Linked DNA regions of Homo sapiens: regions 2, 3 and 4 are each linked to region 1. The links come from fine-mapping of genetic effects on gene expression. A gene starts in region 1. Each other region holds a variant in brackets. All regions are shown on one strand. Distances are between the middles of the regions.

Evidence for each region.
Region 2: its variant is fine-mapped to the expression of NHSL3 in whole blood (TOPMed, PIP above 0.99).
Region 3: its variant is fine-mapped to the expression of NHSL3 in whole blood (TOPMed, PIP above 0.99).
Region 4: its variant is fine-mapped to the expression of NHSL3 in fibroblasts (GTEx, PIP 0.90).

Annotation. Positions count from the first base shown.
Region 1 is chr1:32,737,521-32,745,564 of GRCh38, forward strand. It overlaps NHSL3 (NHS like 3), which reads left to right and starts at 4,310. Exons shown (of 7, transcript NM_020888.3): 1 at 4,310-4,669. The coding sequence starts at 4,435.
Region 2 is chr1:32,703,797-32,711,840 of GRCh38, forward strand. No RefSeq gene overlaps it. Among named protein-coding and RNA genes, the nearest start is that of SYNC, 5.0 kb to the left of the region's middle. The variant G/A (reference allele first, on the strand shown) is at 4,685.
Region 3 is chr1:32,676,568-32,684,611 of GRCh38, forward strand. It overlaps RBBP4 (RB binding protein 4, chromatin remodeling factor), which reads left to right. Exons shown (of 12, transcript NM_005610.3): 12 at 3,073-8,044. The coding sequence ends at 3,138. SYNC (syncoilin, intermediate filament protein) reads right to left here. Exons shown (of 5, transcript NM_030786.3): 3 at 7,691-7,815; 4 at 7,443-7,522; 5 at 3,339-5,293. The coding sequence ends at 5,283. Among named protein-coding and RNA genes, the nearest start is that of SYNC, 22 kb to the right of the region's middle. The variant G/A (reference allele first, on the strand shown) is at 4,225.
Region 4 is chr1:32,840,482-32,848,525 of GRCh38, forward strand. All of the region lies in intron 5 of S100PBP (S100P binding protein), which reads left to right. Among named protein-coding and RNA genes, the nearest start is that of FNDC5, 26 kb to the right of the region's middle. The variant G/A (reference allele first, on the strand shown) is at 3,453.

The DNA.
Region 1 (8,044 bases):
AGTCAGCTCCCTCCGCTGCCTGCAAGGCCAGCAAAGACATGTAGCTGAGCTGAGCAATCATTATTCCAGGGAGCCGGATCCAGCTACAGCTGAGACACAGGCTAGCTCTTCCTAGGCTAGCCCTCCCTGGGTGGCTCAGAAGCATGTCTGTCCTTTAGGCCAGGGGGCAAGAGGGAGAGCTGGGCCTGCTGGTCTGAAGGTGGTCCGGGCTGGGGATGAGAAGTGAGAGTCTCTGGGTGCTGGAGTCAGGAGCAGTGAAGGGAATATAACCCTGAACTCTCCTCATTTCCCTTCTTCCTCTCCCTACCTGCAAATCAGAGGATCCAATCTGTGGGTTGATTCCTGGAAATTCTAGTTTGAGGGGAATTTCCCTGAGGAATTATATGAGACACTGGCAGGGCTATCTTCAGAGGCATGCAAACTGTGTAGTTATGCATAGCCCATGCTCAGAAAGGCTCTGTGCTTGGTTGAATGTTTTGCTGTTGCCTCTTTTTTTTTGAGACAGAATCTTGCTCTGTCGCCCAGGCTGGAGTGCAGTGGCACAGTCTCGGCTCACTGCAACCTCCACCTCCCGGGTTCAAGCAATTCTCTGCCTCAGCCTCCCAGGTAGATGGGATTACAGGCACCCGCCACTATGCCCGGCTAATTTTTGTATTTTTTTTTTTTTTTGGGATGGAGTTTCGCTCTTGTTGCCCAGGCTGGAGGGCAATGGCACGATCTAGGCTCACTGCAACCTCTACCTCCCAGGTTCAAGCGATTCTCCTGCTCAGCCTCCAGAGTAGCTGGGACTACAGGCATGCGCCACTATGTCTGGCTAATTTTTGTATTTTTAGTAGAGACAGGGTTTCTCCATGTTGGTCAGGCTGGTCTCGAGCTCCCGACCTCAGGTGATCCGCCTGCCTCAGCCTCCCAAAGTGCGGGGATTACAGGTGTGAGCCACTGCACCTGGCCTAATTTTTGTATTTTTAGTTGAGACGGGGTTTTACCATGTTGGCCAGGGTGGTCTCGATCTCCTGACCTCATGATCCGCCCTCTTTGGCCTCCCAAAGTACTGGAATTACAGACGTGAGCCACCGTGCCCGGCATTTTTATTTTTGAGACGGAGTTTTGTTCTTATTTTCCAGCCTGGAGTGCAGTGGCACCATCTCGGCTCACTATAACCTCTGCCTTCTGGGTTCAAGCGTTTCTCCTGCCTCAGCCTCCCGAGCAGCTGGGACCACAGACAAGCACCACCATGCCTTGCTAGTTTTTTTGTATTTTTATTTATTTTATTGAGACGGAGTTTTACTCGTCGCCCAGGCTGGAGTGCAATGGCATGATCTCGGCTCACTGCAACCTCCACCTCCCGGGTTCAAGTGATTCTCCTGCCGCAGCTTCCTGAGTAGCTGGGATTATAGGCGCCTGCCAGCAAGCCTGGCTAATTTTTTTTTTTTTTTTTTTTGAGATGGAGTCTCACACTGTCACCGGGGCTGGAGTGCAATGGCGTGATCTTGGCTCACTGCAAACTCCGCCTCCTGGGTTCAAGTGATTCTCCTGCCTCAGCCTCTCGAGTATCTGGGATTACAGGCGCTTGCCACCTTGCCTGGCTAATTTTTGTATTTTTAGTAGAGACGGGGTTTCACTATGTTGGCCAGGCTGGTCTCAAACTCCTGACCTTGTGATCCACCTGCCTCGGCTTCCCAAAGTGCCAGGACTACAGGCGTGAGTCACCTTGCCCGGCCTGCTATTGCCTCTTGAAATTCTTTTTTTAAAAGACAAAGTCAGGCCAGGCACAGTGGCTCACGCCTGTAATCCCAGCACTTTGGGAGGCCGAGGCGCGTGGGTCACCTGAGGTCAGGAGTTCGAGACCAGCCTGACCAATATGGCGAAACCCCGTCTCTACTAAAAATACAAAAATTAGCCAGGCGTGGTGGCGGGCGCCTGTAGTCCCAGCTACTCAGGAGGCTGAGGCAGGAGAATCGCTTGAACCCGGGAGGTGGAGGTTACAGTGAACCGAGATTGTGCCACTGCACTCCAGCCTGGGCGACAGAGCAAGACTCAGTCTCAAACAAACAAACAAACAAACAACAACAACAACAAAAAGACAAGATTTCACTCTGTTTCGCAGGCTGCAGTTCAGTGGCGCGAACATGGCTCACTATAGCCTTGACCTCCTGGGCTCAAGGGATCCTCCCACCTCAGCCTCCCGAGTGAGTAGCTAGGACCACAGGCACTTGTCACCACACCTGGCTAATGAAAAACAATTTTTTTTTTGGAGAGATGAGCTCTTACCATGTTGCCCAAGGCTGGTCTCGAACTCCTAGGCTCAAGCAATCCTCCCACCTTGGCCTTCCAAAGTGTTGGGATTACAGACATGAGCCACTGTGGCAGGCCTTGAAATTCTTAATAAGTTTTTTTTTTTTTTTTTTTTTTTTTTTTTTGAGACAGAGTCTCGCTCTGTCACCCAGGCTGGAGTGCAATGGTGCAATTTTGGCTCACTGCAACCTCCGCCTACCGGGTTCAAGCAATTCGCCTGCCTTAGTCTCCCAAGTAGCTGGGACTACAGGCATGCACCACCACACCCAGCTAAGTTTTTGTATTTAGTAGAGACCGGGTTTCACCATGTTGGTCTGGCTGGTCTTAAACTCCTGACCTCAGGTGATCCATTTGCCTGGGCCTCCCAAAGTGCTGGGAATACAGGCCTGAGCCACCATGCCTGGCACCTGTAACACTTTTCTCTTGAAAACTGCATTCTCTACATTCCCTTTCCTCACCAACTAACAGAGGAAGAGGCTGGGTTCTTAGGAGTGCTAGGCTGGGCCAAGAGCACCCAGAGTACAGGGCTGGTTCCTGATCCAGAATGGGTGCTCTGGGATTGTGGGCTGGATCTGAATGAATGGTGGTTAGACAAGAAACTGAGGCCCAGCATGGACACTGGGTGGTCTGCCCCAGGGCCCCCAGGTGGGAGAGTGTCAATGATGTCCCAGGTTCACCACAGCTGAGCCCCTGGGGACATGCAGGGGGCTAAGGCAGGTTAGGGAGATCCCACTGCACTCTAGTAATCCTGCAATGTTATGGTGAGTGCTATCTACAGTGCGCCGGGGCTGACTGGGCTGGGTGGCCCAGACAAATGGGCCCCTGCCCTCGTGGAGACCAGGACCAAGAGAAAGCCGTGTGACCAGAGTCAGATTGGGTGATTCTGGCCACCCCACTGGTATGGACATCACAAGGCCCTTCTGGGGACTGACGGAGGAGGTTCAAGGGTGCTGAACCCACAGCTGGTCCCCAGCGCAATTTCTAGTCCTTAGGGTTTGAAGCCTTGGACCAGCCTGAGACAAAACCCAGATGACCATCTTGGCTCCTCTCCCGCTGACCACCTCTGTCCCCTTCTGGCCTCCATTTCCGTTGTCGTGGGATCAGATGATATAAAAGGGCTTGGTCAGCTGTAATAGACCCAGAGGCCTGTAGGCAATGAGTACAGCAATTTCAGGATTCTTAATGTTTCCTTTCCTACCAGCCTCCCAGTCACACCTCTCACCTGCCCAGAGTTCAACCCTAATTAGTGTTGAGCATCTCAGTGGGAACTCCTGGTCCAGGCAGGAGTGCCCTGGGGCCTCAAATCCTAGTCCAAGGGTAAACGGAGGAAGGGCTATCCTCATCTTGCCACCAAAGGGTGAGGCAGGAACACAGTGGACCTGGGCCCCCGCTGCACACCGAAGATGGTTGGAGCCTGGAAGGTGTGGTAAAGAGCGAGGAGGCGACCCCAGTCAGCAGATGGGAGGGAAATGCCCACTGCGGGTCACAGGTCTTGGACGTGTCTGAAGCCTCTATTCCTGGCGCAAGCGCCCCAACACTGTCGGGGCTTGGAAGGAATTCTCCAAATTCCCTTATTCCAGGAAAAAATATTCCAGAATCCCCTGTCTATTCCCAGCCCAAACTTGGGATACCAAGTCTCCTGGGGTCCAACCCCAGCCTCTCGCTCCTCCTTTCCTGCGCCCTTCCCCTTTCCGTCCCCACCCCATACCACCCTCTTCCGAACAGATCTCCCGCGGTGCCCCCTGCGGGACGGAACCTCAGTGCCGCCCCCTCCCGGGCGGCCCCACGACCCGCCCTCTCGGGCCCCAGCGGGGGGCACGACCCCGGGCTCCCGGGACCCCCTCCTCTCGGGACTGGACCTCGCCCTCCGCCGGGACCGGGGGAGGCGGGGAGGGGCCGCAGGCAGCGGCGCTCCCGCCCTGCGGCCGCTCCCGCCCCGCTCCTTCCCTCCCCGCCGGCCTGCGCCCCGCCCGCCGCTCGGCCGGCCCCTCCCGCGCCGCTCCCGCCGTCCGCTCTCCGCGCCCGCTCGGCCTCCGCCGCCCAAACTTTTCTCCGGGCGCGCGTCCCCGGCGGCCGCCCCCGGCATGGGCACCGCGCCGCAGGGGGCCTGACCCGCCGCCCGCTCCGCCCCCGCCTGCCATGGCGGCCCGCGCGCCCCCCGCCGCACCTGCGGCCGAGGAGCCGGGGAACCCGGGCGGCCCCCCGCGCAGGAAGAAGTCCCGCTCCGGCGCGTCCGGCCTCCGCCGCGCCTTCAGCTGGCTGCGGGGCAAGCGGCGCAAGAAGAAGGCGGCGGGGGCCGAGGGCGCCGAACCGGCCGCCCCCCGGGCCAAGAAGGCGGAGGACAAGGCCAAGAGGGCCAAGGGCAAAGGCCGAGGTAAGGCGGTCGGCACCTGGGCTGAGCGCGGGGGGGCGTCGAGGGTGCGGCCGAGGGGGCTCTGCCGGGGGTCCGCGCGCGGCGTGTTGGAGGGGGGTGACCCCCAGGAGCTGGTGCTGGAAAGCGAAGAGGCCAGGGCTGAGTCCGAACACTTCCACCCTGCGCTGCCTTCCGCAGTTTCCAGACCCAGTCCTGCCCCGCTGTGAGGGGAGGGGACCCCCGGCTGGGGCAGGGATCCCCTGGCAGAGCAGGAAGTGCTGGTAGCCCGACTCCAGGGCGGTGAGGCGATTCCCCCTCCCCCAGGCTCACCGAGGTTCTGCCCTCTGCTGAGTCAGGGGGTCAGAGACTTAACGCTGGCCTGTGGCCAATGGGAGAGACAGGTGGCCTTGGGTCTCTGGTGGGGACCCTCTGGGTCTGGAAGGTCAACCGCACTCACAAAGAGTTTCAGCTCCAGCTGGATCTGGATTTCCAGCCCCACAAAGGACCTCACATGGAGCACAGTGTGCCCTGCCTTAGCTTCTTAACAGTGCTGGCTTTTCCCACCTGGCCTCCCTCAACGCTCACCTGGGCCAGGCCACAAACATCACCTCCTGGGGTAGTGAGCTCACCAAGGTGAACCAACCCGCCCCTCCCTATCACTCCTTCTTCCAGCCCTGGAGAAACATGCCAGTGTCGGAAGTGTGCTTACAGATGGGGGAAACTGAGGCCCAAGCTCAGTGGAGAGGCTGTACCTGGGCTGGGGTGGGTACTTAAAATTCAACAGCTAATTCTCAGTCTTTCTGAATTTGAGTCCCTGGGCTCCTCCTCTGGCCTGGACGGGCAGCCTGAAAGGCGGGGAAGCCGACCTGGCCCATCCCTGCTGGGGTCATTTTCAGTTCCTTTCTTGGGCCTTCCCTCATTTTCCAGTTTCTGTCTTCCTTTTGATGGGGAGGGCTTGAGTCTTTGCAAGAGGGTGGAGCTCCCTTGGGGCTTGCTGTCCTGGGAAGTCCACCTTTCCTAGACTGCTGCTGCAGTGCTGGAGGTGAGGAAATGGCTGGGTGTGCGGGCCCATCCCATTCTGCCTGTGTTTACCCTCCCAGTGTCCTTTAACCACCTCTTCTGGGAGAGTTAGAAGGAACACTTTAGGGGTCAGGAAGAGGGTGGAAAGCCTCATGTGTGATTGTATCCGGCTTGATCTTCCTTTTGGATAAGGGCCCTGCTTCCCTGCGGCACAGCCACACATAGAAGTGAGGGTGCTGGGGCTGGGGTGACTGGGCCAAACCCTGAGGGAGGACTGGATTTGGGTGAGGGGTGTTTCCAAAGCCTCTGCAGTCCTAACAGGACATGGAGTCTGTCCCAGGGCTGCCCCACTGGGATTCAGTCTGAAGTCATCCCCGTCTCATTCAAGAGGGCATTGCAGCAGGATGTATTGTGGTCAGACTGTCAGGATTGGCAGGCAGAAGGCTAGTGGACTAGCAGTGTATACTCCAGGGCAATGGACCTTTTTCCTCTGGGAGACCAGCCTGGAAGGCAGGGGGCTGGAAAAGCTGAGCCTGTAGGTCACTGCTCCAACAGCCTGGGTTTGGGTTCATTGGGTCAGTGGCCAGGCCTCCCTCTTGCCTTGTGTTTGGTATCAGGTGGCTCTGGGCTTTCTGGGCAGCATGTCGGCCTGATTTGAGCCCACGTGCATGGGTAACACCTCCTTGCCCCTGGCTGTTGTTTCTCCAGGTCTGGAGGTGGCCCTGGGTATGACTGGAGGAAGTCCTGTTCCCTTTTACTCCAGCCTCCTATTATTGCAACTGTTTCCTTGTCACCTGCCTGGCCCAACTTCTTTTCTGTTTATTAAGAGAAATAAATCTGATCCCACTAATCTCCACTGGCAACGCTGGCCAGGAACGGGAAGCCTGCAGAAGGCTTAACTCTTTCAGGGAGAATGTTCAGAATGGAGATTGGGAGAGGTGGGGAGGAGGGATACACAGGAGATTCCTGGGAGGTCAGGGATCTTTGCTGGGGAAGTCATTATCTCCTCCATTCCAATCTCTGGCTCAAAGACCTATGAGAGGCAGGTCTTGATTCCTCTAATCTGACTCTCCTACTTTAAGATGGAAAAACTGAGCTTGTCATGGAGTTTTGAGCACCAGTCTTCCATGATTCCCTTGCTGACCTCACTACCCTGCACAAACTTAGAAGAAGAGAGGAAGTCTGACATTTATTGATTAGTCTGAATATGTCAAGATCTTACTTGCAGATGAAAAAATTGAGGCTCAGGGACAGTGAGTGACTGATTTGACCAAACGGATTTAAACTCAAATCACCTGCCTCAAAAATCGGGACTGTTTTCATGACTCTCCCAAGGACATAGAGCAGCAGGTAAGGCTTGAAGATCTTCTTGTTCAACTCACTTTACAGATGGGAAATGGCCCAGAGAGAGAAGTGAGGGAACTTGATAGAGTGGGGAGAGTATCAGAATCAGGCCAATGAGAGTTTAAATCCTGGCCCAGCTACTAGCAAGCCCCATGATGTAGGATGAGCAACTTCTCAGTGGGCTCCCTGATTCCACCACTGTCTTGTGGGGAAGAAAGGGGGAATCCTCTGGCTGGACATTGCCTTGATGGGCTGTGACCTTTCTGTCTCACCAAGATTCTCACAAGAGAGCATATGAAAATTATATTAAAGGCTGGGCGTGGTGGCTCATGCCTGTAATCCTAGTATTTTGGGAGACCGAGGCGGGCAGATTGCCTGAGCTCAGGAGTTCGAGACCAGCCTGGGCAACACGGTGAAACCCCGTCTCTACTAAAATACAAAAAATTTGCCAGACAAGGTGGCGTGCACCTGTAGTCCCAGCTACCCGGAAGGCTGAGGCAAGAGAATTGCTTGAACTCGGGAGGCGGAGGTTGCAGTTAGCCAAGATTGCACCGCTGCACTCCAGCCTGGGCAACAGAGCGAGACTCAGAAAAAAAAAAAAGAAAAAAAAAAGAAAATTATATTAAAGAGAAGTAACCATAGAAATGCAAGGGGTTGCTATGCCTGTGTTTATAAGTTTAGTCACCTGAGCTCTAACGACCCAGTCTGGAAGGAATGGGCTCTGGGCCTAAGAACAACTTTGCTTGACTGGGCGTGGTGGCTCACACCTGTAATCCCAGCACTTTGGGAGTTTGAGGTGGGTGGGTCATGAGGTCGCGAGTTTAAGACCAGCCTGACCAACATGGTGAAACCCTGTCTCTACTAAAAATACAAAAATTAGCTGGGCGTGGTGGCGCGTGCCTGTAATCCCAGCTACTCAGGAGGCTGAGGCAGGAGAATCGCTTGAACCCGGGAGGTGGAGGTTGCAGTGAGGCGAGATTGCACCACTGTACTCCAGCCTGGGCGACAGAGCGAGACTAGGTCTCAAAAAAA
Region 2 (8,044 bases), 34 kb before region 1:
GATCTCAGGGTGAATGTGTGTGGTGATTGTGCCATGGTGGAGTGTCTTTGTGGGGCTGGCGGTTTTGACTCTGTGTGGGGGGCATGCATATGGTCCCGCTTGTGACTCTGACTGTGTGCTTGTGCGTGACTGGGGGTTGATAAATGTTCATTCATCCTCGCGTCTGAGTGTGCTGCCTGTGGCTGTATATTTATATTTCTCTGTCTAATGCAAGGGGGTGGAAGATTTAACACCCAGGGCAGCCAAATATACCCTTGTAAGGTACGCACGAGAAAAAGCCAGGTTTTGAGGCTGCTGGTCATTTTCTGACTTACCCCCGAACTATTCCAGGGGAGGAGGCTGGCGAAGCCTCAGCTGCTGGGCATTTGACATCTGCTGCCCGCCAGAGGAGAGCTAAGGCAGCAAGGGCAGGCCTGCCAGAGGCTCTGTTTGCTGTGGTACCAAGCAACAGGCGGCAAGGGTGGCATTCAGAAGAGCTGGCTCTGCCCCTCCAACCCCCAGCCCAGGACCTGGCCTTAGGCTGTCCCTAGGACTGAATTTCTGACCCGCTCCTACCCTCCTGCTCAGCGCTTCTTTAGGCTGAAACCCTGAATTCCCCAGGGTCCCAGAAACTTCCCCACCTCCAAGCCTTTGTTGTTGTTTTTTTTGTTGCTGTTGTTTCTTGCAGTCAGGGTCTCACTCTGTCATCCAGGCAGGAGTACGGTGGTGCAATCATGGTTCACGGCAGCCTCAACCTCCTGGGCTCAGGTGATCCTCCCATCTCAGCCTCCCGAGTAGCTGGAACTACAGATGCACACCACCACACCTGGATAATTTTTGTATTTTTTGTAAAGACGAGGTCTCACTGTGTTGCCTAGGCTGGTCTCAAACTCCTAGGCTCAAGCAGTCCTCCTACCTCAGCCTCCCAAAGTGCTGGGATTACAGGAGTGAGCCACCACACCCAGCCAGGCCTTTTCTGCTGCTCCCTCTGCCTAGAAAACCCTTTCCAGCTCTTCACAGCCCACCTTTTACTCTCCTTCAGGTCTCAGATCACATCTCACAGAGGCCTTCTCTGATGCCTCCCCACCCCCTGCCCATAATGTCCACCCATTTATTTTTTTGTTATGGGCTTTTTTGTTTTGTTGGGTTTTGTAAAATTTTATTTAATAGAGATGGGGTCTCACTATGTTGTTAAGGCTGATCTCAAACTCCTGGCCTCAAGGGATCCTCCAGACTCAGCCTCCCAAAGTGCTGGGATTACAAGCAGGAGCCACCATGCCTCACCCCATTTACTGTTTATCCCTGTCACCCTGTTTATTTTCTGTGCAGCACTTATCAATCTGCAACAATACTATTCATTTTCTTTCTTTTTTTTTTGAGACGGAGTCTCACTCTGTTGCCCAAGCTGGAGTGCAGTGGTGCAATCTCAGCTCACTGCAAGCTCCGCCTCCTGGGTTCAGGCCATTCTCCTGCCTCAGCCTCCGGAGTAGCTGGGACTACAGGTGCCTGCAATCATGCCCAGCTAATTTTTTTGTATTTTTAGTAGAGACGGGGTTTCACCGTGTTAGCCAGGATGGTCTCGATTTCCTGACCTCGTGATTCGCCCATCTCGGCCTCCCAAAGTGCTGGGATTGCAGGCATGAGCCACCGCTCCCGGCCAATACTATTCATTTTCAATTATTTTCTTCTCTGCTTCCCCACTAGAATGGAAGCCCCATGAGGGCAGAGACTTTATGTGTCTTGTTTACTGCTGTGTCTCCAGAGCCCAGCACAGGGACTACCACATAGTAGGACCTTAAAAAAATTGTTTGTTTTTGTTTTTTATAATAATAACAATCATTTATTTTACCCACAGATCTGTGATTTGGGCACGGCTTGGTGGAGGCAGCTCATTTCTGCTTCACGTGGCATCAGCTGAGGTGGCTTGCCCAGAGGTTGCAGAACTCGCGTCCAGGACAGCTCACTCATGTGGCTGGCAAGTTGATGCGGTCTGTCAGCTGGGAGCTCAGCAGGGTATTTGGCTGGGGGTCTTGGTTCTCCTCCACATGGGCTTTTCCACGGGTTGCTTGTGCTTCCTCATGGCATGGTGGCTAAGTCCCAACAGTAAACGTCCCAAAAGAACAAGGCAGAAGTGAAAGGCATTTTTTTTGAGCTAGCCTTGGAAGCTACACACTGTCACTGCTGACCTATTCTGTTGCTAAAGGCAGTCACAAAAACCCGGGCCTCCAGCTCATGGGGAGGGGACATAGATGCCACCTTTTAATGGGAAGGGTGTGTCAAAGTCACAGTATAAGAAGAGCTTATGGAATGGGATATAGTATTGCCTCTGTCTTGGGAAAATACAATCTGCCAAAGATGCAGAATCACAGCTTGGTCTTCCACCATCTCCAGACTGTGGCCCTAATCCACACCCATCCAAGACCAGTCCAAGCTCCCTTCTAATGCCTCATTCTATCCAATGAAAGTAAAAAGGAGGGGTCGCTCACCTCACACCACTTCTGATTGTGTCCTATTGCCAGAGCTCAGTCACATGGCCATATTTAGCTTTAGTGGCTTATTATAAAGGATATTGAAAAGGATACAGATGAAGAGATGAATAGGGCAGAGTTATGGAGGAAGGGGCATGAAGCTTCCATCCCCTCCCTGGGCACACCATCCTCCAGGAACCTCCATATGTTCAGCTATCTGGAAGCTCCAAAAAAATTGTTGAATGAATGAAGGGAAGGAGGATGGTTTTACTTAGGCTAATTTAGGCAATATTTGATGCCTGCTGTGTGCTAGGCCTGGGCCACTCACCTCTCAGGAGCCCCAGTCTACTCAGGGAGACAGACACACATGTGCCCAGATTGCATACAGCAAGGCAGTGTGAGGTATTTGAGCCCATAAGATTCAGCTCACTTGGCAAACATTGGCACTTGGGCTGTGCTGGGCCCTGTGTCAGAGCAAACAGCCTTATTTGGCCCAAGCCTGCAAGAAGCTTTCAGTGTAGAGGAAGCTAGAACCGTCTCCTGGGGAGAAAAACCTATGCAGAAAATAATGCCAAATCACTGGGCTGAGTGATGTGATAGACATTGAGAACCAGGGAAGCCAGGGATGGATGGGAGAAATTAACTCCGGGACTGGGGATGGCCTCGTGAACAAAGTACCTGGGCCTGGAAGGATGAGAAAAGCTGTTCTGGAATCAGGAATCAGGCACAGACTCTGCTTTGAAGGACAAGCGCAGCCACTCTTAACTCTCAGCCCCTCCACAAAGCCAAACCCAGGAGGAGGAGAGAGGCCCCTGGGCTGGCTACTCTTAGCCTAACCTTCCTTCTCAGAGCTTTGTGTCCAGGAGCTGACTCCTGCGGCCAGCGTCTCCTGGGCCCCCTTGCCTTCTGGTTTCAGGTGGGGTTTGGCCAAACTGGGGACCCTGGCAGGAGATCAGAGAGGGAGGAGAGTGAGATCAAGATATTTATTTTTATTTTATTTTTTATTTTTGGGGGGACAGAGTCTCGCTTTGTCACCCAGGCTGGAGTGCAGTGCCATGATCTCAGCTCACTGCAACCTCCACCTCCTGGGTTCAAGTGATTCTCGTGCCTCAGCCTCCCAAGTAGCTGGGACTACAAGCATGTGCTACCACACCCAGCTAATTTTTGTATTTTTACAAAATACAAAGAGACAGGATTTTGCCATGTTGGCCAGGCTGGTCTCAAACTCCTGACCTCAGGTGATCCACCCGCTTCAGCCTCTCAAAGTGCTGGGATTATAGGTGTGAGCCATCACACCCAGCCTAGATAAAGATATTTATTATGCCCCCTCCCTGCCTGTGACTTTGGCATTAACTATATTCCTCCCCCAAAAGCCATGGCTCCTGTTGGGTGGTTTGTACCCATGGGTACAGCTCTGGCCAGGTTCCTTAACAAGGCTCCCTCCCCTGCTCCTTCAGGCCCAGGGGTAATGATTCCATTCCACCATTGCGAGTCCCAGGTGCTCCGCCATTCCTGCCCACACCTCTGTGAATGGTCTCTTCATTAAATCCTCTTCTGGCAAACACTGAGTGTTTGAGTGTGCCGCTGTTTCCTGCTGAGATCCCTAAGATAAAAACTGAACCTTAGAAAGCTGGGCCCTGGACAGATAACTTAGGGAGACTTTCTTTCTAAATACCCCCCACAGCTGGGTGTGGTGGCTCACACCTCTAATTCCAGGTGTGAGGGAGGCTGAGGCAGGAATATTGCTTGGGTCCAGGAGTTCAAGGCTACGGTAAGCAATGATCACACTACTGCATGATGCCCTACTGCCTGGGCAACAAAGTGAGACCCTGTCTCCAAAAACATACATAAATAAATCCCCACCGGCTGGGCTCCGTGGCTCACGCCTGTAATCCCAGCACTTTGGGAGGCCAAGGCAGGTGGATCACCTGAGGTCAGGAGTTCAAGACCAGCCTGGCCATCATGGTGAAACCCGGTTTCTACTAAAAATACAAAAACTAGGCCGGGCGTGGTGGCTCACACCTGTAATCCCAGCACTTTGGGAGGCCGAGGCGGGCAGATCACGAGGTCAGGAGATCAATACCATCCTGGCTAACACGGTGAAACCCCGTCTCCACTAAAAATACAAAAATTAGCTGGGCATGGTGGCGGGCACCTGTAGTCCCAGCTACATGGGAGGCTGAGGTAGGAGAATGGCCTGAACCCGGGAGGCGGAGCTTGCAGTGAGCTGAGATTGC[G/A]CCACTGCACTCCAGCCTGGGCAGCAGAGCGAGACTCTGTCTCAAAAAAAAAATAAATAAATAAACAAATAAATAAATAAATAAAATAAAAATACAAAAACTAGAGCCACGCGTGGTGGCTCACGCCTGTAATCCCAGCACTTTGGAAGGCTGAGGCAGGTGGATCACCTGAGGCCAGGAGTTCGAGACCAGCATGGCCAACCTGGTGAAACCCTGTCTCTACTAAAAATACAAAAATTGGCTGGGTGTAGTGGCTCATGCCAGTAATCCCAGCTACTTGGGAGGCTAAGGCAGGAGAACTGCTCGAACCTGGGAGGTGGAGGTTACAGTGAGCCAAGATTGTGCCACTGTGCTCCAGCCTGGGCAACAAGAGCAAAACTCTGTCTCAAAAAAAAAAAAAAAAAAAAAAAAAACGCACCAAAAACCAGAATCAGAAAAGTTGTGAACAAATTTCATCTCGAGTGAAGACTTCTGGGTGCCACTCCAGGCAGGGTCCCCACCCAAGGGGTCCCTCTGTCTTAGGACTGTAGTTTCTGTGGCTGGTAGAATGGGGCAGGCAGGGGACTGTGAGTGAGTGGACATGCGTGTGGGAGGAATGGATGGATGAGCTGGGAAGTGGAGAGGCACCAGAGGGCAGCAGGGGAGGCATGGCCTTGGCAGCTGTCTCTACCAGACCCCAGAGCAGATCCTATAGGACCCTGGGAAACCAACCTCCCTGAACCTCAGCTCCCTCTCAGCAAAATGGGCAATTAACACCCTCTTCACAGGGTTGTTGTGAAATGCAATCAAATGTGAGGCTCAACACATGAGCCACTGGAAGTGGAGCTGCTCTCCAAGCTGAGAGTAGCACATTCCCCATTACTACTGATGCAGGTGGAGGCCATTCTGCTCACTTTTTTTTTTTTTTTGAGACGGCGTTCTTGCTCTTGTCCCCCAGGCTGGAGTGCAATGGCATGATCTTGGCTCACTGCAATCTCTGCCTCCTGGGTTCTCCTGCCTCAGCCTCCTGAGCCACCTGCCTCCACACCTGGCTAATTTTTGTATTTTTAGTAGAGAAGGGGTTTCTCCATATTGGCCAGGCTGGTCGTGAACTCTTGACCTTCAATCCGCCCTCCTGGGTCTCCCAAAGTGCTGGGATTACAGGCATGAGCCACCACGCCTGGCCTCTGCTCACTTTCTTTGTGCCAAGAGCTCCAGCAACCCGTCTAGAGGTGGGAGGAGGGTGGTACAGAGATGCCCTGGCAGGGCCCTCAGACCCACCACTTCTGTTTTTTGTTTTCAGACAGAGTCTTGCTCTTGCCCAGGCTGGAGTGCAGTGGTATGATCAGTGGGACCACAGGTGTGTGCCACCCCACCCGGCTAAATATTTTATTTTTTGTACAGATCACAGCCAGATAGAGGGGTATCTCACCATGTTGCCCAGGCTGGTCTTGAACTCTTGAACTCAAACGATCCTCCAGCCTTGACCTTCCAAAGTGCTGGGATTACAGGCATGAGCCACCGCACCCAGCCTTGACCTACTGCTTCTAGAGAGCCAGGGTATGAATCCAAGCTTTGGAGCGCTTACTTGCTGTGTGACCTTAGGAAAGTCACTCCACTTCATGGAAATTGTTTTCTTCTCTGTAAAATTAGATAACACAGCCAGGCGCGGTGGCTCACTCCTGTAATCCCAGCACTTTGGGAGGCCGAGGTGGGTGGATCACCTGAGGTCGGGAGTTCAAGACCAGCCTGACCAACATGGAGAAACCCCGTCTCTACTAAAAATACAAAATTAGCTGGGCATGGTGGTGCATGCCTGTAATCCCACCTACTCGGGAGGCTGAGGCAGGAGAATCGCTTGAACCCAGGAGGCGGAGGTTGCAGTGAGCCGAGATCGTGCCATTGCACTCCAGCCTGGGAAACAAGAGCAAAATTCTGTCTCAAAACAAAACAAAAACAAGAAATAATTAACTATTATTTTTGAAACTCCCCTTTCTCCTGCTTCCTCTCTCTGAAGCTGCAACCAGGGGCTGGCTGACTACAGCATGTGTTTTCACTCGCTCATTCATTCACTTCACCATTTGTTAGGCCAGACAATGTGTTAAACCCTAAGAACACAAAGACAGTAAGTCATTAAAGCAAGACCTATATCTGTATGACTTCATGGCTGTGTCCCTTGTCCCTAGGTTTTCAACAAATAGTGGCCAAATGATGTGTTCATGAAGAGTATAGTAATGAATAAGACAAATAGAAGAGAATAAAGAATGAAAAGAAAAAACAAATAGTGGCCAAATTAGTAAATGATGTTAGCTATATTCTTGAGCCCCTACTGCAAGCCAGATGCTAAACTAGTCTTTTTTTTTTTTTTTTGAGACAGAGTCTCGCTCTGTCACCCAGGCTGGAGTGCAGTGGCGCAATTTTGGCTCTCTGCAACCTCCACCTCCCGGATTCAAGCAATTCTCCTGCCTCAGCCTCCTGATTAGCTGGGATTACAGGCACCCACCACCATGCCTGGCTAATTTTTGTATTTTTAGTAGAGAGGAGATTTCGCCGTGTTGGCCAGGCTGGTCTCAGACTCCTGACCTCAGGTGATCTGCCTGCTTGGGCCTCCCAAAGTGCTGGGATTACAGGCCGGAGCCACTGCACCTGGGCTAGAAGGCATTTTATCTGCTTTAATGCAATAAATCTTCAGAACAGCCCTATAACATGGGGCCTGTAATAAAGCCCATTTACTGATGAGAAAACTGAGGCTTGGAGAGGTTATGCAACTTAGTTGACCAAAGTCACACAGAGAGGAAATGGTGGCACCCAAGATTCAATACACTGCCTCCACGAATAAATGATGTGTTATCCACATCATTGTCATTAACCTTGACTTTCAGAGACTTATAGTCTAGTGGGAATCTGGCAGCCTTTCCATCCTCAGACTTAGCCCCAAGGGGCCCAGGCATGGCCACAGACTTGTTTTGTGTCTCCGGGCAAATTACTTAACCTCTCTGGTTCTGCTTCCTTTTTTTTTTTTTTTTTTTTTTTTGAGACCAAGTCTTGCTCTGTCACCCAGGCTGGAGTGCAGTGGTGCCATCTCAGCTCACTGCAAGCTCCGCCTCTCAGGTTCATGCCATTCTCCTGCCTCAGACTCTCGAGTAGCTGGGACTACAGGCGCCCACCACCACGCCCAGCTAATTTTTTGTATTTTTAGTAGAGATGGGGTTTCACCATGTTAGCCAGGATGGTCTCGATCTCCTCACCTCGTGATCTGCCCACCTTGGCCCCCCAAAGTGCTGGGATTACAGACGTGAGCCACAGCGCCCGGCCACTTCTTTTTTTCTTTTTTTGAAACAAAGTCTCACTCTGTCACCCAGGCTGGAGTGCAGTGGCTGG
Region 3 (8,044 bases), 61 kb before region 1:
CACCATTGCACTCGAACATGGGCAACAAGAGCAAAACTCCATCTCAAAAAAAAAAAAAAAAGAAAAAGAAAAGCTGTTTGCTAAAATGTGCTTGGTACCTAGTTCTTGGTTTCTTTAGACCTTTCTGTATTATAATTTTTTTACAAAAAAGATGTGTAACTTGAAAACAGAAAATTCACCTCACTCTCTTTGTAATAAATCCCTTCAATATTAATACAGAAACTTAATAGCTGGGCGTGATGGCACGTACCTGTAGTCCCAGTTCCTTGGGAGGCTGAAGTGGGAGGCTAGCGTGATCCCAGGAGGCAGAGGTTGCAGTGAGCTAAGATGGCGCCACTGCACTCCAGCCTGGGTGACAGAGCGAGACCCTGTCTCAAAAAAAAAATACTGAAGAATTCAAGGTTAAACTAGATCCCTGCAAGGCCATCACCTCCATTCCAAGTTGTTACTTTATTTGGTGTTTTTAGCATTGTAATAGAGTAAGTAAATATTTGGTCTTTGTCCCAGTTCTTGGCACAGAGCTCTCCAAAAACACTCGGAGTTTGCAGAGTGCTAGGAGTGTCTTTGTCGTTCCTAGTGATCCACTTTGGACCACACCTGAGTTTGTTCTACTGTGAGGTGATTTTGGTGGGGCCCCTAGATAGCCTCATAGTTGGTTTAGTCAGAAAGGCCAATCACTTGATTTGAGGGTTAAAACTTGTCGGCCCACTTGCCAACCTTGGGGTTGCAGGGCCAGAGATTGAACTCTATAAAAACTCCTAATTTGATGTGCTTCTGGATTGGTGAACAACTCGACATACTGGGTGGGTAGCATGCCCAGAGACTTGATGGAAACTCTGCAGCCCCTCCCCACCTTGCCGTATGCATCTCTTCCATGTGGTTCCTCAGTTGTATCCTTTATTTAAAAAAAAAAACAAAACAAAAAACAAACAAAAAACAGTAATAGTAAAAAGCTTTCTTGGGTTCTGTGAGTCATTCCATCAAATTATCAGACCTGAGGAGGCAGTAGTGGGAACCCTGAAATTTGTAGTCAAGTGGGATAGAAGTGTGCAGGTAGCCTGGGACCAGGGAATTGCAACTGGCTTCTGAAGTAAGGACAGTCTTCTCCAAAGCTAACTTCAGATAGTGTCAGAATAGGATTGAGTTGTACACCCAGTTGGTGTCCTAAGAAAGGGTACCCCACATTTGGTGTTAGAAGTAACGTCAGAAAGCATCACACAATTGTATGTATTCTTTTCTCTGGGGTCAGATCACAAGCTCTTTGAAGGTAAGACTATCCTGTCCTCTGCAGTACCTATCATAGTGATATGTGCATGGTAGGTGCTAAGAGCAGTAAATTTTGCTCCTGTGAAAGTGGTTCCTGTATTTTAAGATTATGCCGTTGGATACAGGTATTCTGTCAAGCAGTAGAAGTAGAGTTTATTCTATACAAGAACAGTTTTTCTCTTCAATATATAGAGATTCGGAACATATTGTTTTGGAAGTTTTAAGTGTGCAGTTCAGCAGTCTTCAGTGTATTTACAGTTGTGCAACCATCAACCACAGTCAATTTGAGAACATTTTCATCATCTGAAAAAGAAACCCTGTACCCATTAGCCATCATTTCCTATTTTTCTCATAGTCCCCCAGCCCTAGGCAGCCACCAAGCTATGGATTTGCCTGTTTTGGACCCCTGTTTTTTTTAGACGAAGTCTTGCCCCCCAGGCTGGAGTGCAGTGGTGTGATCTTGGCTCACTGCAACCTCCGCCTCCTGGGTTCAAGCGATTCTCCTGCCTTAGCCTCCCAAATAGCTGGGATTACAGGCGCCTGTCACCACGCCTGGCTAATTTTTATATTTTTAGTAGAGACAGCGTTTCACCATGTTGGCCAGGCTGGTCTCGAACTCCTGACCTCAGGTGATACGCCTGCCTTGGCCTCCCAAAATGCTGGGATTACAGGCGTGTGCCACCACACCTGGCCTGGACACCTTATATAAATAAAATCCTAAAGTATGTGACAGCTTTTTTTTTTTTTTTTTTTTTTTTTTTTTTTTTTTTTTTTGGCACACAGTCTTGCTTTGCCACCCAGGCTGGAGTGCAGTGGTGCAATCTTGGCTCACTACAACCACCACCTCCCAGGTTCAATCAATTCTTATGCCTCAGCCTCCCAAGTAGCTGGGACCACAGGGGTGCACCCCCACACATGGCTGATTTTTGTATTTGTAGTAGAGATGCAGTTTCGCCTTGTTGGTCAGGCTAGTCTCAAACTCATGACCTCAAGTGATCTGTCTGCCTCAGCCTCCCAAGTGCTGGGATTACAGGTATGAGCCACCACACCTGGCCTGACTGGCTTTTTTATGCCAAATAATATTCCATCATATGGATTGGATATACCGTGTATCCATTTTAGTAGTTGATGGATATTTGGGTTGTTTTTACTTTTTGGCTATTATTAATAATGTCTGGTTAGGCTGGGCACAATGGCTTACTCCTATAATCCTAGCACTTTGAGAGGCCGAGGTGGGCAGATCACCTGAGATCAGGAGTTCGAGACCAGCCTGGCCAACATGGTGAAACCCCATCTCTATTAAAAATACAAAAATTAGCCAGGCGTAGTGGCATGTGCCTGTAATCCTAGCTACTCTGGAGGCTGAGGCAGGAGAATTGCTTGAACCTGGGAGGCATAGGTTGCAGTGAGCCGAGATGGTGCCACTGCACTCCAGCCTGGGAGACAGAGCAAGGCTCCATCTCAAAAGGAAAGAAAAATAATAATGCCTGGTTAAAGAACTCAAGAATGTTGGCTATCAAGACAAATAGTATCCACACTGCAGTTTTGTGGGAATGTCCTAATCAGGCGTCTGGGGATCAGCTGCTTATTTTTATTGGAACATGATCATGCTAATTAATATTTCATTACCCATTATAGGTTGTCTCCGGATACTTTCATCCAAGAGTTGAATAGTTGTAACACAGATTGTGTGGCCCAAAAGCTATAAAGTATTTACTCTCTGGCTTCCTGGCCTAATCTGTTGTTGAAACCTTGAGTTTTAGAAGAAGTCTTCATGTTTAAATTCTTTTTCTTGTTTTTGGGCAGGCAGAGAACATTTATAATGATGAAGACCCTGAAGGAAGCGTGGATCCAGAAGGACAAGGGTCCTAGATATGTCTTTACTTGTTGTGATTTTAGACTCCCCTTTTTTCTTCTCAACCCTGAGAGTGATTTAACACTGGTTTTGAGACAGACTTTATTCAGCTATCCCTCTATATAATAGGTACCACCGATAATGCTATTAGCCCAAACCGTGGGTGTTTTCTAAATATTAATAGGGGGGCTTGATTCAACAAAGCCACAGACTTAACGTTGAAATTTTCTTCAGGAATTTTCTAGTAACCCAGGTCTAAAGTAGCTACAGAAAGGGGAATATTATGTGTGATTATTTTTCTTCTTATGCTATATCCCCAAGTTTTTCAGACTCATTTAAGTAAAGGCTAGAGTGAGTAAGGAATAGAGCCAAATGAGGTAGGTGTCTGAGCCATGAAGTATAAATACTGAAAGATGTCACTTTTATTCAGGAAATAGGGGGAGATTCAAGTCATATAGATTCCTACTCGAAAATCTTGACACCTGACTTTCCAGGATGCACATTTTCATACGTAGACCAGTTTCCTCTTGGTTTCTTCAGTTAAGTCAAAACAACACGTTCCTCTTTCCCCATATATTCATATATTTTTGCTCGTTAGTGTATTTCTTGAGCTGTTTTCATGTTGTTTATTTCCTGTCTGTGAAATGGTGTTTTTTTTTTTGTTGTTGGTTTTTTTTTTTTTTTTTTTAACTTGGGACCACCAAGTTGTAAAGATGTATGTTTTTACCTGACAGTTATACCACAGGTAGACTGTCAAGTTGAGAAGAGTGAATCAATAACTTGTATTTGTTTTAAAAATTAAATTAATCCTTGATAAGAGTTGCTTTTTTTTTTTAGGAGTTAGTCCTTGACCACTAGTTTGATGCCATCTCCATTTTGGGTGACCTGTTTCACCAGCAGGCCTGTTACTCTCCATGACTAACTGTGTAAGTGCTTAAAATGGAATAAATTGCTTTTCTACATAACCCCATGCTGATGGGTTTTATTTAGTATAAAACATCCATCAAACACCAGTCTCTGGCTTCTAGAAGAGTCCTTCAGATGACAGTTGTTGTCCATGGTCTTTGACTATCAAGAGCAGAATTAAATGTAATAGTCCCAGA[G/A]CTGTAGAAAAGAACTTTACTCCTTCCCAGGGAAAGTGAAAGACATAAAACACTGAATCAGAGGTGGCACAGATTAGTCTTTGATAAGGTAACGTTTCTTTGAAGTCTATCTGTAGAGAACTACATGGACTTCCAAGAGTGTCAAAGGCAGTGTGGTAGAGAGAATTTAAGGCAAGATTTAAATTTGGAAAAGGTGCTTGAACCTTTTCTCAGAGGTTTTATTTCCCCAGTATGTTTTTCACTGGGGCCTTTACTTAGGTTAGAAATAATAGGCTTTGAAGGCCTCTATCACCAGATGCAATAACCAGATAAAATTCCTGTTTTTTCCCAATCGCTTAGTTTTTTGTTGTTGTTGTTTTTTAACTGAGTAGATCATTCTGACCCAGAACTACTTTCATGAGGTAAGATCTTTGGGAAAATCTGAATAGCGTTAACCATTAGATTCAAATCTCAAATGGTTTCTTTTCAAGTCTAGTTGTTTTAGAGTATAGTGAGAAATACCTTGACACAATTTTAAGAGTAAACTATATGGGTCAGCATATCCTTGAACAAAAAGTAGACTTTGTAAAAGTATTCATTTAAATTCTAACACTCGTGGCACAAAAGAATGGAAATTGTAAACCCATGTAATGGAAATTGGCTATCTTTTTGACCCCACATGTGCCCCTCAAAAATGTTTTTGGTTTGGGTCAACACAAGGCAAGATACATTCTTTAAAATACTCCCAGATGTGTCCATACATTCATCCTTCACTCAGTGCATATGTGAGGGTTGTTGCTGGAAGACAGGAGGCTCATCTTTCCTTTCCTTGGTGCATTGAGATCAGTATCAACAGCAGATGAAATAGAATCCAGCAAAGAGTTGACATGTTCTGCCTCCGGCCAACTCTAGAATCTTTTTAAGCAGGTCAGCCAGTATTTGCAACTTCCACAGGATGAATTGCTTGCCAAGTTTCTGGCACTCTTGTCTGGTTGGAAGAGTACATCCAAAGGGTACTTAGTGATCCTTTGCTAAGAAGTTTTTTGCTGTTTCCGGGTTACAGATTTGGCCATATATTTCTAAACAGCCCCTGTAAAGTTGAAAGAAAAAGTTTATAACAGTGAACTTCTGAGGTTTAGTTACTGCAGGCTTTGTTGAGAAGAGATTGTTACAGTGTGATTTATGGATGATCAGGGATGACTTTCCCCTAGCAAATATTTGGATGCCTCCTGTTTGTCAAATAGAATGAATGGTGATGGTGATGGGAGGGATAGTTAAACGTTTTCTCTGCTAGGTTAACTTCTTACAGGTATAATTACAATGCCTGAAATTCTGTAGTTTCATTTCTTTGGATTAGTCGTTGTCTTTTCCAGATTGTACACAATCTGATCAACACAAAGGTAGTTAGTAGATCATTAACCTCAATTGCAAGGTTATAATTTCTCAAACATTAAGCATATTATCAGTCATGTGGATTCAAACACAGTATAAGAAAATCCTCAAGGCTGGGTGTGATGGCTTATGCCTGTAATCCCAGCTACTTAGCAGGCTGAGGCAGGAGTATTGTTTGAACCCAGGAGGCAGAGTTGCAGTGAGCCAAGATCGTGCCACTACTCCAGCCTGGGCAAAATAGCAAGACCCGACCCCCCATCTCTACTAAAAAGAAATTTAAAAAAATAAAATCCTAGAAAATTAGAAAAAGCAACAATAGTTACTTGTGGGCCAGGCGCGGTGGTTCACGCCTGTAATCCCAGCACTTTGAGAGGCTGAGGCACGTGGATCACAAGGTCAGGAGTTCAAGACCAGCCTGGCCAAGATGGTGAAACCCCGTTTCTACTAAAAATACAAAAACTAGCTGGCCGTGGTGGCATGCTCCTGTAGTCCCAGCTACTCAGGAGGCTGAGGCAGGAAAATCACTTGAACCCAGGAGGTGGAGGTTGCAGTGAACTGAGACCGTGCCACTGCACTCCAGCCTGGGTGGCAGAGCGAGACTGTCTCAAAAAAAAAAGAAAGTTGTGAATTTGATGTAAGCTTAGGAAATGAATAAAATTTATAGGCATCTGTATAATGTACAACTTGACACGGACTTTCTTTTATCCTTAGTTTCTTTCACGGACTCTAGAACTTTTATCAGAATATACTGGTAAAACATTGGGGGAGGGATCCTGAGTAGGTGATTGGTCAGAAAGATGCCTTCAGTTTTGTCAGTGTCTAAAAGTTAAGTCTGTTTAGGCCAAGCATGGTGGCTCACACCTGAAATCCCAGCACTCTGGGAGGCCGAGGCAAGTGGATCACAAGGTCAGGAGATGAGACCATCTTAGCCAACATGGTGAAACCCCGTCTCTACTAAAATACAAAAAAATTAGCCAGGCGTGGTGGTGCGTGCCTATAATCCCAGCTACTTGGGAGGCTGAGGCAGGGGAATCGCTTGAACCCGGGAGGCAGAGGTCACGCCACTGCACTCCAGCCTGGCAACAGAGCAAGACTCCGTCTCAAAAAAAAAAAAAAAAAAAAAGAGTAAGTCTGTGTAACATGAACATCTCTGCTTCCACCCAAAACCACAGCCTTTGAATATTATATAAGGAACTTAATGGATAGATATGTTTATTATTTTTGATAGCACAACTGCTTTCTCTGCTATTATAAGGAAAACTGAGAATAGCAGGTGGGTAGGGTAGGATGAGGAAACAAGATGCCCAAAGCCTAGATGCCACAGAATTCATGGTGATAATCAGGGCATATTTTGAGTCCTACTAGAAACAAACATTCCAAATGAACTCTGAATGCCTGACTCAGGCGTTTTGGAGGTTTGGGTTATCCCCTTGTCATTAGGCACACAAGGGTTTTTTGTTGTTTTTGTTTTTTGGGTTTTTGTTTTGTTTTGAGGCAGTCTCACTCTGTTGTACAAGCTGGAGTGCTGTATTGTGATCTTGACTCACTGCAACCTCTGCCTCCTGGTTCAAGCGATTCTCCTGCCTTGGCCTCCTGAGTAGCTGGGATTATAAGTGCCTGCCACTATGCCCGGCTAATTTTTGTATTTTTAGTGGAGATGGAGTTTTGCCATGTTGGCCAGGCTGGTCTTGAACTCCTGACTCCAGGTGATCCACCCTCCTCAGCCTCCCAAAGTGCTAGGATTACAGGCGTGAGCCACCCCGTCCGGCCTGTTTTTAAGGCATTAATTAGTATTGTTAGGAAAGCAGTAACAATGCAAACACCACTCTTCTCTTCACAAAGATCACCTTGAGACTGTGTCTCCATTCCACCTGCCTGAGAAGTGGGAGCATCAGCCTGTTCCAGGCTCTTGGGTAGTAGCATAGCCCTTTAAAAAGAGAGAGCCATTTTCCATGTGTTTTTGGATAAGCACAATTTGAAAATCATTTCCCAAATCCTCTTTTTGTTTTTGATTCTAAGGTAAAATTTTCCCTAAGCCCTCCCACCATCCCCTCAGCCAGTATTAGATGAGATTTGTATAGCAGCAGAAACTGACTTATAAGTAGAGAGCTCTTCAGCAAGACTGAGCCTTAGCTGTTCCATCTCTTTGTTCTTCTGTTGCTGGAGTTGCACCCCATTTCTTAACTGCCTCTGGCGTTCTTCCATTTCCTCCAGCTGTTCCTGCATGAGATGGCCAAGAACATTTCTAATGAGCCAAACAATAAAAACTCACATTGTCCACTCTTACTTATAAAACACTTTTTTGTTCATTGTTTAATCTTGATAGCAGTATTGAGGCTGGTATTTATATGATAGGTTATGAAACAGGTTCAAAGAAGTTGTGTCTTGGAAAAAAAGTGACAATGCTTTTGAAAATGATGACGAAAAAGGCATCTTGTCTGTTAACCAC
Region 4 (8,044 bases), 100 kb after region 1:
AAGTAGCTGGGATTACAGGCACCCGCCACCACGCCTGGCTAATTTTTGTATTTTTAGTAGAGACAGGGTTTTGCCATGTTGGCCAGGCTGGTTTCGAACTCCTGACCTCAGGTGATCCGCCTGCCTCGGCCTCCCAAAGTGCTGGGATTACAGGTGTGAGCCACCACGCCCGACCTATTTTCTATTTTTCAATGGGAGTCATCCTAATGGGTGTAAAGTGGTCAGTTTTTATAATTTTAGACTTTCTAATATATGTGTAGTGATATCTCATTGTAGTTTTCATTTGCATTTTCCTAATGAGTAATAATGTTGAGCATCTTTTCATGTGCTTATTTGCCACCTGTATATCTTCTTTGGTGAAGTATTTTTTGCTCATTTAAAAAATTGGATTATTTTCGGCCAGGCGCGGTGGCTCAAGCCTGTAATCCCAGCACTTTGGGAGGCCGAGGTGGGCGGATCACGAGATCAGGAGATTGAGGCCGTCCTGGCTAACACGGTGAAACCCCGTCTCTACTAAAAATACAAAAAAAGTAGCTGGGCATGGTGGCGGGTGCCTGTAGTCCCAGCTACTCAGGAGGCTGAGGCAGGAGAATGGCGTGAACCCGGGAGACGGAGCTTGCAGTGAACCGAGATTGTGCCACTGCACTTCAGCCTGGGCGACAGAGCAAGATTCCATCTCAAAAAAAAAAAAAATAAAAAAAATTGGATTATTTTCTTATTACTGAGTTTCGAGAGTTCTTTAAATACATGTTCCAAATGCAAGTTTCTTTGCCAGATAAGTAATTTGGAAATATTTTCTCCCAGTATATGCCTTGTCTTTTCATTCCCATAAGTGTCTTCTAAAGAACATAATTCTTAGTTTTGATGAAGTAAGTTTGTTTATTTTTATTTATTTATTTATTTTTCTTGGTAGTCACTGGTTATAGTAGATGAAGTAAGTTTAATCAGGTTTTTAAAAATTTTATGGGTGGGAAGCAGTGGCTCACACCTGTAATCCCGGCACTTTGGGAGGCCAAGGCAGGCAGATCACCTGAGGTCGGGAGTTTGAGACCAGCCTGACCAACATGGAGAAAGCCCATCTCTACTAAAAATACAAAATTAGCTGGGCGTAGTGGCGCATGCCTGTAATCCTAGCTACTCGGGAGGCTGAGGCAGGAGAATTGCTTGAACCCGGAAAGTAAAGATTGCTGTGGGCCGAGATAGCACCATTGCACTCCAGCCTGGGCAACAAGAGCAAAACTCTGTCTCAAAAAAAAAAAAAAAAAAAAAAAATTACGGATTATGCTTTCATGTGGTATCTAAGAAATCTTTGCTTAAAAGAAAAGGCCACAAAAATTTTCTCCTATGTTTTTTTCTAGAGGTTTTATAGCTTTAGGGATTACATTTAGATCTATGATCCTTTTAAAATTTATTCTGTATGTAGTGCAAGATATGGATTAAAGCCTGTAATCCCAGCACTTTGGGAGGCTCAGGTGGGAAGATTGCTTGAGCCCAAGAGTTTGAGACCAGCCTGGGCAATGTGGTGAAACCTTGCCTCTACCAAAAAAAAATTAAAAGGTTAGCCGGGCATGGTGACATACACCTGTAGTCCTTGCTACTCAGAAGGCTAAGGCAGGAGGATTGCTTAAGCCCAGAAGAGGGAGGTTGCATTGATGCACCACTGCACTCCAGCCTGGGTGACAGAGTGTAAGACTGTCTCAAAAAAAAAAAAAAAAAAAAAAACATATATATATATATATGTATATATATATATATACACACACACACACACACACACACACACACACACGTGGGAATGTAAGGCTTATTTTCTTGGCACATGGATATTCAATTGCTTCTTTACCATTTATTGAAAAGACTGTCCATTCTGCATTGAATTGCCTTTGTACCTTTGTCAAAAATCATTTGTCTCTAGAAAAATCAGGTTTCCAGGAAAAAAAAGACTAATGTGTTCCACTAGTGTTCTTATTTTTCAGTTGTGTTGGCTTTTGTAGATTCTTTGCATTTCCATATAAATTTTAGAATTAGCGTATCAATTTCTTAAGGCTTGGTGGGATTTCCATTGGGATTGTATTGAGTCTATATAAATAAATAAAACTGAGAGAGAATTAACATTTTATTTTATTTTTTTGAGATGGAGTCTCACTCTGTTGCCTAGGCTGTCGTGCGGTGGTGCGATCTCAGCTCACTGCAACCTCTGCCTCCGAGATTCAAGCAATTCTCCTGCCTCAGTCTCCCAAGTAGCTGGGATTACAAATGCCTGCCACTACACTCAGCTTAATTTTTTTATTTTTAATACAGACAGGGTTTCACCAAGTTGGCCAGGCTGTTCTCGAGCTCTTGACTTCAAGTGATCAGCCCTCCTCAGCCTCCCAAAGTGCTGAGATTACGGGTGTGAGCCCCCGCGCCTGACTGAGAATTAACATTTTAATATTGAGTGTTTTGATTAAAGTCTTCTCTAATTTCCTTCATAAATGTTTTGTAGCTTTTGTACAGTCTTGCACATCTTTTATCCAATTTATCCCGGAGTGTTTCATATTGTGATGCTTTTGTAAAATGATTTAGTTTTTAAAATTTCAGTATCTGTTCATTGCTATTATATAGAAATGTAATTGATTTTTGTGTCTTGGTCTTACATTCTATAACCTTCCTAAATTCTTTTATTAGTTTTAGTAACTTTTTAATAGATTTCATCAGGTTTTCCCTGTAGGTTATCTTATTGTCAGCAAATAAAGAAATTTTTACTTGTTTCTTTCTGACTTGGATGCCTTTTATTTTCTTTTCTGGTGCTGCCTAGAACCTCCAGTTAAGTACAAATGAGATCTTTTCTTTTTGTTTGTTGTTGTTGTTGTTGTTGTTGTTGAGACAAGAATCTCGCTCTGTTGCCCAGACTGGAGTGCAGTGGCGTGATCTCAGCTCACTGCAACCTCAGCCTCCTGAGTAGCTGGGACTACAGGCATGAGCCACCACACCCGGCTAATTTTTTTTTTTTTGAGATGAAGTTTCACTCTTCTTGCCAGGCTGGAGTGCGATGGCACAATCTCGGCTCACGAAAACCTCCGCCTTCCATGTTCAAGCGATTCTCCTTCAGCCTCCTGAATAGCTGGGATTACAGGCATGTGCCACTGTATCTGGCTAATTTTGTACTTTTAGTAGAGACAGGGTTTCTCCATATTGGTCAGGCTGGTCTCGAACTCCCGACCTCAAGTGATCCGACCACCTTGGCCTCTCAAAGTGCTGGGATTACAGGTGTGAGCCACCGCACATGGCCTAATTTTTTGTATTTTTAGTAAAGACGGGGTTTCACCATGTTAGCCAGGATGGTCTCGATCTCCTGACCTCATGATCTGCCCGTCTTGGCCTCCCAAAGTGGTGGGATTACAGGCGTGAGCCACCATGCCCGGCTGAGATCTTTTCCCATCCCCTTGTTGACTTTTTTTTTCTTTTTTTGA[G/A]ATGGAGTCTCGCTGTGTCACCCAAACTGGAGTGCAGTGGCTCGATCTCAGCTCACTGCAGTCTCCGCCTTCCAGGTTCAAGTGATTCTCCTGCCTCAGCCTCCCGAGTAGCTGGGACTACAGGCGCCTGCCACCATGCCTGGCTAATTTTTTTGTATTTTTAGTAGAGACAGGGTTTCACCATGTTGGCCAGGCTGGTCTTGAACTCCTGACCTTAGGTGATCCGCCCACTTCGGCCTCCGCAATTGCTGGGATTACAGGTGTGAGCCACTGTGCCCAGCCAATTTTTTGTATTTTTAGCAGAGGTGGGGTTTTGCTATATTGGCCAGGCTGGTCTCGAATTTCTGGCCTCAAGTATCTGCCTGCCTCTGCCTCCCAAAGTGTTGGGGTTACAGGTGTGAGCCATTGTGCCCGAACCTGTTACTGATTTTAGAAAAACATTTGGAACTGGGCACGGTGGCTCATGCCTGTAATCCCAGTGCTTTGGGAGGCCAATGTGGGAGGATCACTTGTGCCTAGCCTAGGTTACAGAGCAAACCCTGTTTTGTTACTAATTTTTATGAGATGGGGTCTGGTTCTGTCCCCCAGGCTAGAGTGCAGTGGGGCCATCACAGCTTACTGCAGCCTCTACCTCCTTAGCTCAAGTAATACTCTTACCTCGGCCTCCAGAGTAGCTACAGGCACGTGCCACTATGCCTAGCTAATTTTTAAATTTTTTTGTAGAGATGGTCTCCAGCTTTGGCCTCCCAAAGTAATGGGATTATGAGCATGAGCCACCATGCCCTTCCTGTTTTCTGATTTCTATTCCGAGATAGAGATATATATAGATATCTATAGATAGAGATATATATCTCTGTATAGATCTATAGAGAGATATATATCTCTATATATCTATATATATATATCTTTTTTTGAGATGGACTCTCGCTCTGTTGCCCAGGCTGGAGTGCAGTGGCGTGATCTCGGCTCACTGCAAGCTGTGCCTCCCGGGTTCACGCCATTCTCCTGCCTCAGCCTCCCGAGTAGCTGGGACTACAGGCACCCCCCACCATGCCCGGCTAATTTTTTTGTATTTTTATTATTTATTTATTTATTTATTTAATTTATTTTTGAGGTGGAGTCTCGCTGTTGCCCAGGCTGGAGTGCAGTGGCGCGATCTTGGCTCACTGCAGGCTCCGCTCCCCAGGTTCACGCCATTCTCCTGCGTCAGCCTCCTGAGTAGCTGGGACTACAGGCGCCCGCCACCTCACCCGGCTAATTTTTTGTATTTTTAGTAGAGACGGGGTTTCACCACGTTAGCTGTGTTAGCCAGGATGGTCTCGATCTCCTGGCCTTTCTTTTTTAAAAAATAGAGACAGTAGCCGAGTGTTGTGGTGGCACATACTTGTAGTCCCAGCTACTTGGGAGGCTGAGGTGGGAGGAACCCTTGAACCCAGGAGGCTGAGTGAACCAATGTCGTGTCACGGCACTCCAGCCTAGGTGACGGAGTGAGACCCTGTCTCAAAAAAAAAAAGTTAAATAGAGATGGTATCTCACTGTTACCCAGGCTAGTCTCGAACTCTTGGCCTCCCAAAGTGCCACAATTACAGGCATGAGTCACCATGCCTGGCCTTGTTTTCTAGCTTTTTAATGTGGAAGATCAGATCATTGATCTTGAGAACTTTCTATTTTCTCTAAGCATTTTAAGCCATAGGCTCCCCTTTAGGCACTGCTAGCTGCATCCCACACATTTTGATATGTTTTCATTTTCTTTTTTTTTTTTTTTAAGATAAAGCCTTGCTCTGTCACCCAGCCTGAGTGCAGTGGTACAATCATGGTTCACTGTAGCATCAACCTCCCGGGCTCGTGATCTTCCTACCTCAGCCTCCCAAGTAGCTGGGACTACAGGTGTGTGCCGCCAAGCCTGGCTAATTTTTTGTATTTTTTGTAGAGATGGGGTTTTGCCATGTTGCCCACGCTGGTCTCAAACTCCTGGGCTCAAGTGATCTATCCACCTCGGCCTCCCAAAGTGCTAGGATTACAGGTGTGAGCCACTGGGCCTTGCCTTAATTAATTTATTTTTTTATTTTTTTTTGAGATGGAGTCTCACTCTATCACCCAGGCTGGAGTGCAATAGTGTGGTCTTGGCTTACTGCAACCCCCACCTCCTGGGTTCAAGCAATTCTCCTGCCTCAGCCTCCTGAGTAGCTGGGACTACAGGTGCATGCCACTACACCCGGCTTATTTTGTAGTTTTTTAGTAGAGATGGGGTTTCACTGTGTTGGCCAGGCTGGTCTTGAACTCCTGACCTCATGATCTGCCTGCCTCGGCCTCCCAAAGTGCTGGGATTACAGGCATGAGCCACCACGCCTGCCCTCCTTAATTTACTTTTATGTTTAAAGTAAATGTCTTATAGAGAGCATATAATTGGTAGCTGGGTCTTGCTTTTTTTTTTTTTTTCCAGTCTCACAATCTCAGTCTTTAATTGGAGCATTAATCCATTTACATTTAATGTACAATCCCATATGGCTGGATTTAAATCTGCCATCGTGTTACTTGTTTTCTATTTGTTTTTTGTTTCCACTTCCATCTTTCCCTGACTCATTTAATTTTTGTAGTATTTTTTAGTATTCCATTTTATCTCCATACTTACTGCCTATACCTCTTTGTTGTATTTTTATTATCTTATTAAATTTATTATTATTATTATGGAGATGGGATCTCACTCTGTTGCCTAGGCTAGAGTGCAGTAACATGATTATAGCTCACTGTAGTCTTGACCTCCTGGCCTCAAGCAAGCCTCCCACCTCATCCTTCAAAGTGTTGGGATTACAGGCATGTTATTTTTACTTTAAACAGTAAATTATCTTTCTTTTTTTTTTTTTTGAGACGGAGTTTCACTCTTGTCGCCCAGGCTGTAGTGCAGTGGTGCGATCTCAGCTCACCGCAACCTCCGCCTCCAGGTTCAAGCGATTCTCCTGCCTCAGCCTCCCTAGTAGCTAGGATTACAGGCATGTGCTACCACACCTGGCTAATTTTGTATTTTTAGTAGAGACGGGGTTTCTCCATGTTGGTCAGGCTGGTCTCGAACTCCCAACCTCAGGTGATCCGCCCACCTTGGCCTCCCAAAGTGCTGGGATTACAGGCATGAGCCACCGTGCCTGGCCGTAACAGTAAATTATCTTTTAAAGACATCATCTAAATAGGAAAAATAGCCTTTTATATGCACTCACATACTTACATTTCCAGTGCTTTTGATTATTTTGTATAGATCCAAGTTTCGATGTGATATTATTTTCCTTTTTCCTAATGAACAACTTGTAATGTTTGTTGTAGTGCACATCTACTGATGAAGTCTCTCTGCTTTTATTTAGAACCTGTTTATTTTGCCTTCATTTAAAAAACTTTTTATTTTGAAAAATTATAGACTTATAAGAAGTTTCAAGACTCACCTCAGTTGTTTCTCTTTCCTCGGGGATCACAATTTTCAGTAGTCTGAAAGCACTTGTTTCATAATTTTGCCTAGTTTCTAGTAGCTTACAGTGAGAGGTTAAGTCCCCCATTCATCTTAGCTACAAGTGGAAATATCTGCTTTGATTTTTATTGAAGATCATAAACAGCAATGGTTATATAAATTCTGATTCTGAATTTCCCAGTACTGTTGAGGACATTCATATATCATTCAGTATCCCCTGTATCACTTCATAAGTGAATTACATAATAACTCCTGTTTCTTCTACTTTTTCCCTTGCCTGCAAGGAAAATCAGTCAAGATTTCTACTAGATCATCGCAGTTTTGTTGACCTAGAGGTGACACATTTGCATTCTTGCCTTCTACTTATTTTTTCTTTTCATTTATATTTTATTAATCTATTTATAAAAGCAGTAGCCCATGTCCCCTGTAGCACATTTTTTCTTTCCTTCTCTCTTCATTCCCTCCCTGGTATTAAGTACTTTACATTGCATGGAATAGAGATATTATGATAGCCTTTAAGTAACTGAGTTTAAGGATTTACAGGAAAAGATGATTAGATGAGACTTTTCACCAGGTCTCGTAGTGAAAAGAATTAACCGTAGAGCCGAACTACACGCTCCGTCAGAAATGTGTGCCTCTAACTAGGTGCTGCAGCTCACACCTGTAATCCCAGCACTTTGGGAGGCCAAGGTGGGTGGATCATGAAGTCAGGAGTTCGAGACCAGCCTCGCCAAGATGGTGAAACCCCATCTCTACTAAAAATACAAAAATTAGCCGAGTATGGTGGCGGGCACCTGTAATCCCAGCTACTCGGGAGGCTGAGGCAGGAGAATTGCTTGAAACCGGAAGGCAGAGTTTGCAGTGAGCCAATATCGAGTCACTGCACTCCAGCCTGGGCAAAAGAGCGAAACTCCGTCTCAAAAAAAAATAAAGAAAAAAGAAATGAGTGCCTCTGTTCCCTATTGGGATTTTCCCTAATCTAATCTGCTTCTGTGACCAGTACTTTTGCTGCTATTTAGCTATCTCAAGTAACTGTTTTTCCTAGAGCCCTGCATGTGTACTGTTCTCTCTTGTTCTCATTACTAAAGCTCACATTGACATTTCAAAGAAGAGTATCTGATTGGTTTACTTAATGACC